Homo sapiens: one gene and its partner. The main gene of each other region encodes a partner of the protein of the gene in region 2 in a complex. Each region holds a gene or a part of one and is shown on either strand. Other genes may lie near its edges.

Region 1 (4,324 bases), on a different chromosome or scaffold from region 2:
ATCCCAGTGATGGTAGTATTATTTCTCATGTTCATATTCACTTGTTTAGAACTGTTACCTTTAATACTCTGAAGCTTGCAGGTAAGAAATCTGAGGCCTGATATTAATACCTGGCACAGAAATATCTACTGAAATCACTGAAACTGAAGTCTGTTACTGTTTCAAAAGTACCCCATAATGTTTCCAAGCTAACCAGTAAAATATTTTTGCTACAAACATTTTTACTTAAGTCTAGTAAGGTTAATGATCCTCTAAAACTAGACAAATGCTTTCTGAATCTTCCATTTAAAAACCATGTAACAGCCTGGAAATCTGTCAGGCCTCTTAATCCTAATTTTAGCCCAATTATCAGTCGCTTTAAAGAGCACCAAAATGTCAATACACAAGAAAACCACCACTATCTGGCTTAAAGATAGAATACAGACAACAGTCCAATTTCTGCTATACTGCATATTGCCAATAAACATTAACTACTTAAAACCATACACAATGGTTACCAAATAACAAATTAAACAAAAAAGACAAACTGCAAAGTCTTATCAAAAGTTTGTTTTATTTTCAATACAAGATAAATACCATGCTTGTTACTAGTGCAGTTTAAGGCCGACAATGGCCATATATCAAACTGCCGAACAGTCACCTAAATGCTAAAGAAAGGAAAGACAAAGTAAACATTAAACACAAAATTGCAATTACAAACATTTTAATAAAATGGAATGAGCTTTTTAATTGAAGCTAATATGAAGTCTAATTCTCATGGACAGCAAAAAAAAAAAAAAAAAAGTCTATTAGATCAATTATCACCTTACCTTTTTGCACAGAAATCTTATTGTGAAGTCACCATAGAGTCAATAGCTAAAATTTTAAGACTTTCTTTGGCCTTCTGATATTAAACAAATTATTTACAAACTGTGATCAGTAATTCGTGGATATTGGTAAAATGATACAATTTTTTGTTGTTGTTGTTAAGGGCTTTCCATTAAAAATTGTAAAACAACTTTGTAAGGCTGTACAGGGCTGTAAACTACTTTGCTAATATACCATGGGATGCAGAGGAAGGAATAATAGACCTTTTTTTTAAGGCTAAAGTTATCAATGTTATAGATGCATTCCTTAAAATACATTATGATTTATACCCAAAGGATCCTTTCCCATTAAATACCACCTGAGTACTACAATTTTCAAAGTAAAAAAATAAACATGAATTCACCATAGTTATTTTAAAATAATTTAACTTACAGAATGTTGAGAAGTGTTACGCAGTAACAGTGCGACAAAAAGAACACACTTTCAAAACAAAATGTTTTCGCTAAATGCAGGGTCTGTCCAATTATGAAATTAATGTAAAACATTTACACCCATGGCAGAGTTTTAGGATACTCCCACGTGAAAAAAACTCTTGGTAGTATTTACTATGCAGTTACCACTTCAAGATGTGTGTGACTTCAATTAAATTCAACCTAGTATTTAAAAGACTCCATTACAATATGTTAATACAGCAGGAAGTCTTTAAAGACATTAAAATCTGTCGTATATAATCAAGTATTTATACGTCCCATACAAAAACCATAGTAGCTGCATACTCAGTGAATGCCACAACCTGAAATTCTAAAAAAAGAACATTGGTTAAGACAAACCTAAATCAATCTGAACAGTGTTGCCTGAATATTTAGAATATTCACAAAAATTCATATTGCTTCTTTCTAATGCCAAGAAAGAAGAGTATAAGAACTTCCTCCCAGAAGCCTAGACATTTTAATACATTTTCTATTTCAACTTACAATGAAACTTTAATCCTGAATCTTGATTTATCTAAATCAAAAATCTCACATTACGAACACAAGGAATGCCATATGTAAGGCCACATCTTAATAAATTTATAATTTTTGGTTGAATATTTATTGAAAAAATCAGTCTAAGGCTTCTAAGAGTCAAGTTGCTTAAAAAAATAAATACACCAGTGTTTAAACTGAAGTTAAGGTTAAAAAAACGCATACACACACACACACACACACACACACACTGTAAGAACAGAAAAATAGAATGCTTTGCTACAAAAATCCCACTTAATATATTTTAGCACAAAAATGTCTAATATACACTGGATAAGCGTGCATTTACGTACATACAACTAGGGGAAACATTTACAGAGGGCTACGGGATGCAAATGAACTTAATGAGTAATAAAAACCAGTTGTTATCTGTAAAACAGAGAATCTCAATACTGTATTCTCAGTCAAGAATTAGAACATAAACTTCCTCTTAAGCTGAAGCTTAAAACACAAAATTGGAGCCATTTTAGAAAATACAGAAAATGCAATGATCATTCAGGTATGAAAACCAAAATGTCGAGAGCACTCCAACAGAAAAGTCTTGTAATGCATCTCATTGTATAAAACAGTATGTATTTAGATTGGCACAGTTAAATACATAAGGGAAAGAGAAAGTCTTTGCCCTTTCCACAATTTTCCTTCACTATAAAATATTATACAACATTCATTAAAACCTCCATGTTTATTTTAATAACTGACCTGAAACTAGTAAAAAATAAAGCAATATTCTCCACAGGAGAATTAAATGAAAATAGTATCTTAAGCTACAAGTTATCTGTGTATTCCAAATTGTCATTAACTGCTTAAGAACATTCTAGGTAAAAGGACCATTAAATGGGCTAAACTATGATCAAAAGCCACTGCAACTTACTCCAAACCTTATGAAAAGTGACAAAAAAAAAAAACACACATCTGCAAATTTACACTGGAATATGCTTTCCACAACATAGTTCCTTTAACCAAAAGCAGCACTTTCAATCCAAAGTGTTGCCTCAGAAGCAGTACCATTCAGGTACTGTATCACTCATCTGTTTAACTTTACTACTGGCTGAAAGGAATGTGACTGTATAGCACTAATAAATGCTATGTTTTAAAATTCAACTCGTTTGTTTTCACATCCACTACAGTTATTAACTAAGGAAAAAATGAAAAGGTCTCTGAGACACTGTTTTTGGTGTCTATGCAAGGATTTATCTCTTTGGATTGTTTTTACACATTAAAAAAAGGAAGAGTTTTCAAATAACATTAACCCATAAACAACTGAAGGGGGTATGAAGAACAAAACAAGGCCTGCAATTTTCACCTTTACTGCTATACATTCACGTGTTATCAGGTAGAGAAGGACTTTGCAAAATTACTTGGTCAAACCAAGAAGTTATTTCCTTCTGACAACACTTAAAATAACGGATTAGCAGCAAACAAATCTAGTACACTCACACTGTCTGTAACGAAAGTCATGTAATGAGATCAGCCAAGCAAGGAGAAGAGTGATATAGAAGGAGCAATTAAAAGGTTCCATTGATAAAATATGAAAAGGTAAATAAAGGATTTAATTAGTATAAAATTTCCAGTTTCATTTCAAGTGCAGTTAGATTTTTGTGATTCCATTTTTAAACTGTTCAAAGAAAATTTTATTTTCATGGACATTTTACTTACCTTTTAACCCTTTACTATTAACTAATTTCTCTTGTAATATTTATATGTCCATACTTCTTCGCATTAGGGCATTGTAGTCAAAATATTAAAAAGCCAAGAAATGACACAACAATATACAGAAAACAGGAAAATTTTGATACAACTCTAAAATAATGTTAAAAAAGCAACCGCATTTTCAACAAAATGCTTTAAAAAATCATTTCTGAAAGTGAACAGTTCTGATAAACATCAACGATCCCATGCACAGATACTTCAAACACAAAATATTTTAAAATAAAACTGGCAGTGATATGGGTAATTCAAAACAGCTAATTTTGTCAGAAGTGGTTTGATAGCAGACAAGATGAAAGTGAAGAACAGCAGTGGAAATTTCTGGAGGGTTTCTACAGTTGCACATAACACAGTATCTAGGGTATTTTAACACTTTAAGCATTGTCCTAGAATTTGGGTACTCTTTAACAACCAATGTGTATTAACAGAAGATCTCTCAAAGATAATCAGATCTTAAAAACATATTAACGTGCTCAAGAATTTTAAGTCAAATTTCTGAAGTAGTGATTTCAAATTACATTCCCATAAAAACACCTAATCAAGTTGACACCCTGCCTCTGCCAATTTTGCAATCAAGAACACATGCTAGTCAGGTGCTTTTAAAGTGGGCCTATATGTAAGGCAGGTTTGAAAAAAATCTTTGATTAAGTAACTATAGCATGAATCAATACGGTGCATGAATATACATAGTATTCCTTAAACTGTGCAGACACGGTTTATCTGTAATTTCCCATTACAAATACTGGGGAATACAACCGAATGTTAATGAACATCACATCCTTCAA
Region 2 (7,034 bases):
ACTGTAGACTTTTTATAGATACTGTATACTTAGGCTACACTAAATTTATAAAAAAATTTTTTTCATCAATAATAAATTAACCCTTGGCCAGGCGCGGTGGCTCATGCCTGTAATCCCAGCACTTTGGGAGGCCGAGGCAGGCAGATCACTTGAGGTCAGGAGTTTGAGACCAGCCTGGCCAACATGGTGAAACCCCATCTCTACTAAAAATTTAAAAAATTAGCCAGGCGTGGTGGTGGGCACTTGTAATCCCAGCTACTCAGGAGGCTGAGGCTGGAGAATCGCTTGAACCTGGGAGACAGAGGTTGCAGTGGGCCGAGATTGTGCCACCGCACTCCAGCCTGGGCGACAGAGTGAGACTCTGTCTCAAAATAATAATAATAATAATAATAATAAATTAACTCTTGCTTACTGTAACTTTTTTACTTTATAAACTAAATTTTTTTTAACTCTTGGACTCCTTTGTAATAACACCTAGCTTAAAACACAAATTGTACAGCTCATTAAAAAATTTTTTCTTTATATCTTTATAAGCTTTTTTCTATTCTTAAAATTACTTTATTTTTTTTTTTTAGCTTTTAAACTTTTTTGTTAAAAGCTAAGACACAAACACATATTAGCCTAGACCTACACAGGGTCAAGATCATCAATATCACTGTCTTCCACCTTTTTACATCTTGTCCCACTTAGAAGGTCTTCAAGGGCAGTAACACACATGGAGTTGCCATCTCCTAGGATAACAATGTCTTCTTCTGGAATCCCTCCCGAAGGACCTGCCTGAGGCTGTTTTACAGTAAATTTTTTTTTTTTGTAAGTAGAAGGAATATACTCTAAATTAATGATAAAAAGTGTAGTATAGTAAATACATAACCCAGTAATATAGTTGCTTATGATCAATTATTGTATACTGTAGATAATTGTTTGTGTTGTCCTTTTATATGACTGGCAGTGCAGTAGGTTTGTTTATACCAGCATCACCACAAGCATGTGAGTAACGCAACATGCAGTTGTTCATCTCTATTATACTCATAGGATCACTGTCATACATGCAGTCCATCATTGACCAAAACATCATTGTAGCACATAACTATAGTTCTAACATTCATGGAGCTTTTTCGTTTTTTTGAGACGGAGTCTTGCTCTGTCGCCCAGGCTGAAGTGCGGTGGTGTGATCTCAGCTCACTGCAACCTCCACCCCCTGGGTTCAAGCGATCCTCCAGCCTCAGCCTCCCGAGTAGCTGGGATCACAGGTGCCCACCACCACACACGGCTAATTTTTGTCTTTTTAGTGGAGATGGATTTCACCATGTTGGCCAGGCTGGTCTCAAACTCCTGACCTCAGGTGATCTACCCGCCTTGGCCTCCCAAAGTGCTGCGATTACAGGTGTGAGCCACCGCGCCCGGCCTCAAGGAGCTTTTTGATCCATTTCTATGGGCTCCCCACCAAGGACACTTCAGTTAAACATTTGGCTGAAGTGTTTGACACCAAAGCACTTGCAGATAGGATTGGGGCAGAAGCCAAGTTGACAGTGTCACCTGTCCCTCATTTCACCCTATCGCACTAAAGTTCTCCCACACTTGCATTTCAGTTTCAATACTTTTTCTCATGTGCCACAAAGGAGGCTGTGAAGTTATCATTTCCAAAGTCTCTGCTGGGCACAGTGACTCACGCCTGTAATCACAGCACTTTGGAGGCTGAGGCAGGACGATAGCTTGAGCCCAGAGGTTCGAGCAGCCTGGGCAACACAATGAGACCCTGTTTCTATCTGTTCTGAAAACAAAACAAAACAGAAGTCTCTTGAGGAAGGGTAAAATTTAAAACATGTAAGACATTAGGATAGCAAAAAAATCTCGGTCTCCAGCACTGTCCTAACTTTCAGGGTTTTCTGTTATCCTAGTCCCTTGTGATAACACACCACATAGCAACTTCTCTTGGGTTACAGATCTTCCTCCTTCCTGACATTGGGAGCATGAGTGATATGGGCTCACATACCCTGGCTGCCTCCTTAACAGTCAGTATTAATTTGGAAGTAAAATGAGAAATGTAACACTTAAATTGAAGCTTATTAAATCCACAGAGGTAATGGCAATTCCAATAAAGCCAAAAGACCTTTCTCATTTTCTTTCTTTTTTCTTTTTTTTGAGACAGGGTCTCACTCTGTTGCCCAGCCTGGAGTGCAGTGGCACAATCATGGCTCACTGCAACCTCAACCTCCCCAGCTCAGGTTATCCTCCTGCCTTAGCCTCGTGAGTAGCTGGGACCACAGGTGTGCACCACCACACCCAGCTAAGTTTTAAATTATTTGTAGAGACGGGGTCTCCCTGTGTTGGGATTACAAGCATGAGCCACTGTGCCTGGCCACCTGCCTTATTTTCATTACATTTTTAGGATGGAGAGACTAGAAGAAAGTTTCTAGAATGTTCTGTTGAATCAAGTCATGGAGTCTAAGTCAAGGTTCTTAATGATGTTTCAGAACTTACAATGGATGGGGAAATCTGGATGTAGGAACCTAAATGGATAGCTCTATTTTCACCTTTTCTGTTGGATCGCTTAGAGCAGTTTCCTCCCCTGGTGTTTAACCATTATGAGATGGAAAGTGTGTTTTCATCTGCATTGAATCCTTGGCTGTAGGCACTGGTATCTGAGTTAGTTGAGCCAGGGAGAGGGCTACAGGAAGGCAAGCATATTAAGAATTGCTTCCTGGCTGGGCGCGGTGGCTCATGCCTGTAATCCCAGCACTTTGTGAGGCCGAGGCGGGCGGATCACAAGGTCAGGAGTTCGAGACCAGCCTGGCCAACATGGTGAAACCACATCTCTACTAAAAATACAAAAAAATAGTCGGGCGTGGTGGTGGGCACCTGTGATCCCAGCTACTGGGGAGGCTGAGGCAGGAGAATCGCTTGAACCTGGGAGGCGGAAGTTGCAGTGAGCTGAGATCGTGCCATTGCACTCCAGCCTGGATGACATGAGCAAGACTCCATATCAAAAAAAAAAAAAAAAAAAAAAAGGAAGTGCTTCCTTCTCCACTGCTTTAGCTTTTAGCTTAGCCTTATGTTCATTTAGCAAAAACTGTTATGAAGACAGATACAGTAGAATGAAGCTGGCATCAGCTGGTTTCTTGGTGACAGTTTTGGACAAAGGGAGGTCGGGGGGCTTTTGAAAAAACAGGGTCAGTTGAATATTGGGCTATTCATATCACATAGGCATCTCCTGCTTTGTCTCTCTTTCTACATGCTTTAACCCTTTCCTCTCTCCCTCCTCCTCCCACAGGAGGAAATCCTGAGCAGCCTGTTCAACTAGAAAATCAATGACTGGTGGAGACTTAGTTGCTAGACCGGCCTTTGTAAACAAAATCTATCTTTGGAAGAGAATGAGGAAACTTATGAGAGCCGTAGCAACCAAGTGTTGTTGTAGCAGCCTACATTTATTGAATACTATTTTGTTCACTGCTCTATTTTCATAAGCACTCTGTATGTGGACGATTTTAATCCTCTAAACAGTGTTATGAAGTAGATAATATTAATAGATGAGGAAACTGAGACAAAGATTGGTAACTTGTTCAAGGGCACAGTGGAGCCAAGATTCAAACTCGGGCAGTTTGTGTCCAGAGTACACCCTTTGAAGACCACCAAGCTTATAACTTTTCTCATATATAATAATTTTTGCCCTGAATTACAGAAAGATCTGAAGCCAGGATCGCTCAGGAGACGATGGAGAGAGCTCCTAGCAGAGTTGGGACGGTTCTCAGTGTGCCCCAATGTTGCAGTTGTTTTTCAGCATATTCTGTCTTTCTCCTCAGTCAAGGACCAACCTACCTTTTCTTTTCTAGTGCTGAGGAATGTAAACAAGTTTGCTGGGCCTTGCGAGACTTCACCAGGTTGTTTCGATAGCTCACACTCCTGCACTGTGCCTGTCACCCAGGTGAGGATACATAGTTCCCAGCTTTTGTCCGGACTGTCGGACTGTTGGGGATGCCTGGGAATGGGGATAGGTTTTAATGCCTATCATGGGACCAGTCTTATAGCTAGAGTCAGGGAAGGACTCAGCAGTTTAACTGTGGTGAACAGCTGGAATATACAGGGCCCGGATTTTCTTGGGCCTGGGCAGCCAGTAATTGTCAGTGTCTTTGGGGTACCATTTTCACCTCCATAAGAAAGTAACTGTTACACAGTGCATTGAAACATTTTCTTCCCCCTTCCCCTTACAGACACTTCTAAGATGGTAAGTGTACATGGCAACAAACAAATAAGTATTTTTAACCTGGCCACTTTGGCGAAAACAACCTCAAGTTGACTGTTATATGTGGTGCCAGTCTCCTAAAACTGACCCTCCAGATGTAATGAGCAAAGAGCTTATTCTTATCACTTTTATGACCTGAATGCTGAAGTGCCAGGTTTTGACCAGGGCAGGAGGTATGAATTGAATATCCCTTATCCGAAATGCTTGGGATTTCGGAGGAAAAAACACTTTCAGAAGTGTTTTTCAATTTTGGATTTTTTGGGATTTTGGAATATTTGCAGAATGCACACCAGTTGAGCATTCCTAATCCAAAAATCCAAAATCCAAAATGCTCCAATGCTCATTCGCTTGAGGGTCATATCAGCGTTCAAAAAGTTTCAGCTGTTAGGGATGCTTGGCCCTTACAGGAGAGGAGGAGCATCTTTGGCTCCCGATGAGCACTTTTCTCCACGTGCTTTCCGTCTCCTGGTTCTGAAGCAAAGCAAGAAGCTTAGCTGAAAGGAGTGGGTAGTAGAATTTGGGTGCCAGTTTCTTGATGGAGAGAAGAAAGGTAGCTCTCCTCTAAGCCCACCCTTTGATGTCTCAAGGTGAGTTTCTTCTCCCAGGAGGCAATTCTTGATGAATCTGTAGCACTCACTGGTAGTTTCTGTGTTAAATGCATTCATAGGTAAAAGTGATGTTCAGCAGTGCCTTGCCACACCCAAAATCATTTCTCAACTTTGATTGTTTTAATGAGTAATAATATCATTTGGGATGTCCTGGTTTTGCATGGTGTCTGGGTTAGCTGACATTGATACACCTCATAAGGTTGCTCATGGACAGCTGTAGGTGTTCATGGTTAACTTTTATTGTGCCCTTACTGTGTGTCAGGGCACTGTTTTAAGTGTTTTAGATGTATTAACTAAGATAATCCTCATCTGCTTTTCTGGATTTGTTACTATTTTTCCCATTTTACAAATGAGGAAATTGAGGTTCAACAATGTTTAACAATTTGCCTGACAGTTATTCGTGGAGCCAGAATTCACATGTAGATATTCTGGTACCAGAGTCCTCACTTTGAACCACTCCGCTTAATACAGTATCCTTTCGATAGCATCTAAATTGGTGTTTTGTTTTGTTTTGTTTTCAACTGTTATTAGTAGGCAAAGCCTTCTTTCAAAATAAAATCGACATGAAGCCTGTGGGATTTAGCAGACTGAGGCAAAGCTTCCCTGGTTGCTTTGGAATGGGAGGCCTGGACCTGCTGGCTCTTTGCCCTCCTGACACATCATCCCTTGTTTCCACAGCACACTCAGCATTGGAAGCACACTGCAGACGGTGTCTCATTAAAGCAGTAGCTCCCTTGAACCCACAAGTTAAAACGCCAGACTTTTATTTATTTGTTTATTTTTTCTGAGTTCTTATTGGCAGACTTCAGAATGAGGTACCTGAGGAAATATAGAAACCTCTGCCTTAAGGTTGATTTTACTAAATGCTCTATTTTCTGGTGCAGTTATTGACTGTCTTATCTCTTTTGTCAGGAATGTCTTTTTTAATTAGAAGACAGGAAGAAAACAAAAACCAGACTGTGTCCCACAATCAGAAACCTCCGTTGTGGCAGAGGGGCCTTCACCGCCACCAGGGTGTCCCGCCAGACAGGGAGAGACTCCAGCCTTCTGAGGCCATCCTGAGGAGTTCCTGTTTGGGGGTGTGAGGGAAAATCAGCGCGGATTTTAAAAAGATGGCTGTGGCCTGCCCGGCGTGGTGGGAGGGGAGCTGGTTTCCTGGTGAACTTTCTAAAAGGAAAAATAATTTTAAGTAAAGAAAAAAGAAAAAAAAGGAAGACTAAACAGAAACCAGAACTGAAACATTCACCTGGTAGCAAATGACACATGCACGCACACACACATACACGCACAAGCGCCAGTGCGCACGTGTACACAGAAAAACAAAAGGACAAGCTTTCTGTGAAACAAAATATTTACTTAGGGATAATGTGGGGATTCACATGAATTAAATAGCTGCAATTGGAAGAAGAGGGTCAGGGTCATTTGTTCAGGTTTTCTATTGTTTTGTCCTCTCTTTCCTCTCCTACCCTTCCTTCTCTTTCTCTCTCCCCTCCTTTTAAATGCAAATGAGTAGAAATTTCTTCTACCTTCCCCAGCTGTTTCTTCCCACCTTTAGAGTTGTTTAGACAAGGAGGAGTAAGCAAGGAACTTGTTCTGCTTTCTATCGTGGTCACATTGGTGATGCTCGGGACCTGCCAGGGTCAGAATTTATGGATATCTGAACCCTGACCCCGTTCATTCTCTCAGTCCACTTCCAATCCACATCAGTTTGTTGTCTGCCTTGGAGAGAAGAGCCAAAACTGGGGTGGGCGGGTGGGTGGGGAGTGCAGGATATAAATGTGTAAGTTTTTGTTTTTTAAGGTTTTTTTCTTAGTGAATTATTCACCCACAGACATGAGAGAAAAAAAGAGGGAGGGTGTGTGGAGAAAAAATGTTTACAGGGCTAACAAGGGATGATGTGTCATTTAGTATGTTACTAAAAAGTGTGGAAATGACTTGATTTTAAGGGGAGGGTGAGGCCGAAGAGGGAAGCCCAAAGCAGATCTTAATGTTTCAAAGGAGTGCAGCCCTTCACAGCCATCAGATATGAGGGCACTGTTCTGTCTGGTGTTGTAGCCATCTCAAGAACAAATCAACAGCAACAAAAGAGAAAGAATAAATTTTTAAAATTTAACCAGTGTTTCTTTGTTTTTACTTTCATTCACTGCCTTGTAGCTCGGAAATGGTTCAGCTAGACTAGCTATGGA

What was found. Proteins that work in one complex are often made in the same cells at the same time.
Region 1: the proteins of TNPO3 (region 2) and CPSF6 are in contact, whole or in part, in a crystal structure (PDB 6GX9), measured with the Homo sapiens proteins. Residues at the interface, in NP_036602.1 of Homo sapiens: Arg620, Asn656, Arg657, Glu660, Arg661, Arg664, Arg667, Phe668, Arg671, Ser698, Cys699, Tyr702, Ile706, Asp709, Asp747, Asp750, Asp751, Arg754, Arg758, Gln761, Cys793, Arg797; in NP_008938.2 of Homo sapiens: Tyr521, Arg522, Glu523, Arg524, Ser525, Glu527, Arg528.

What each region holds. Positions count from the first base shown.
Region 1 is NC_000012.12:69,270,569-69,274,892, reverse strand, and holds the end of CPSF6 (cleavage and polyadenylation specificity factor subunit 6), read right to left. Parts: 3' UTR 535-4,324; downstream 1-534. UniProt on the Homo sapiens protein: Component of the cleavage factor Im (CFIm) complex that functions as an activator of the pre-mRNA 3'-end cleavage and polyadenylation processing required for the maturation of pre-mRNA into functional mRNAs.
Region 2 is NC_000007.14:128,954,112-128,961,145, reverse strand, and holds the end of TNPO3 (transportin-3), read left to right. Parts: intron 1-3,679; exon of another isoform or gene 3,680-3,830; coding exon 3,831-3,891; 3' UTR 3,892-3,922; intron 3,923-5,760; coding exon of another isoform or gene 5,761-5,779; 3' UTR 5,780-6,961; downstream 6,962-7,034. UniProt on the Homo sapiens protein: Importin, which transports target proteins into the nucleus. Specifically mediates the nuclear import of splicing factor serine/arginine (SR) proteins, such as RBM4, SFRS1 and SFRS2, by recognizing phosphorylated SR domains.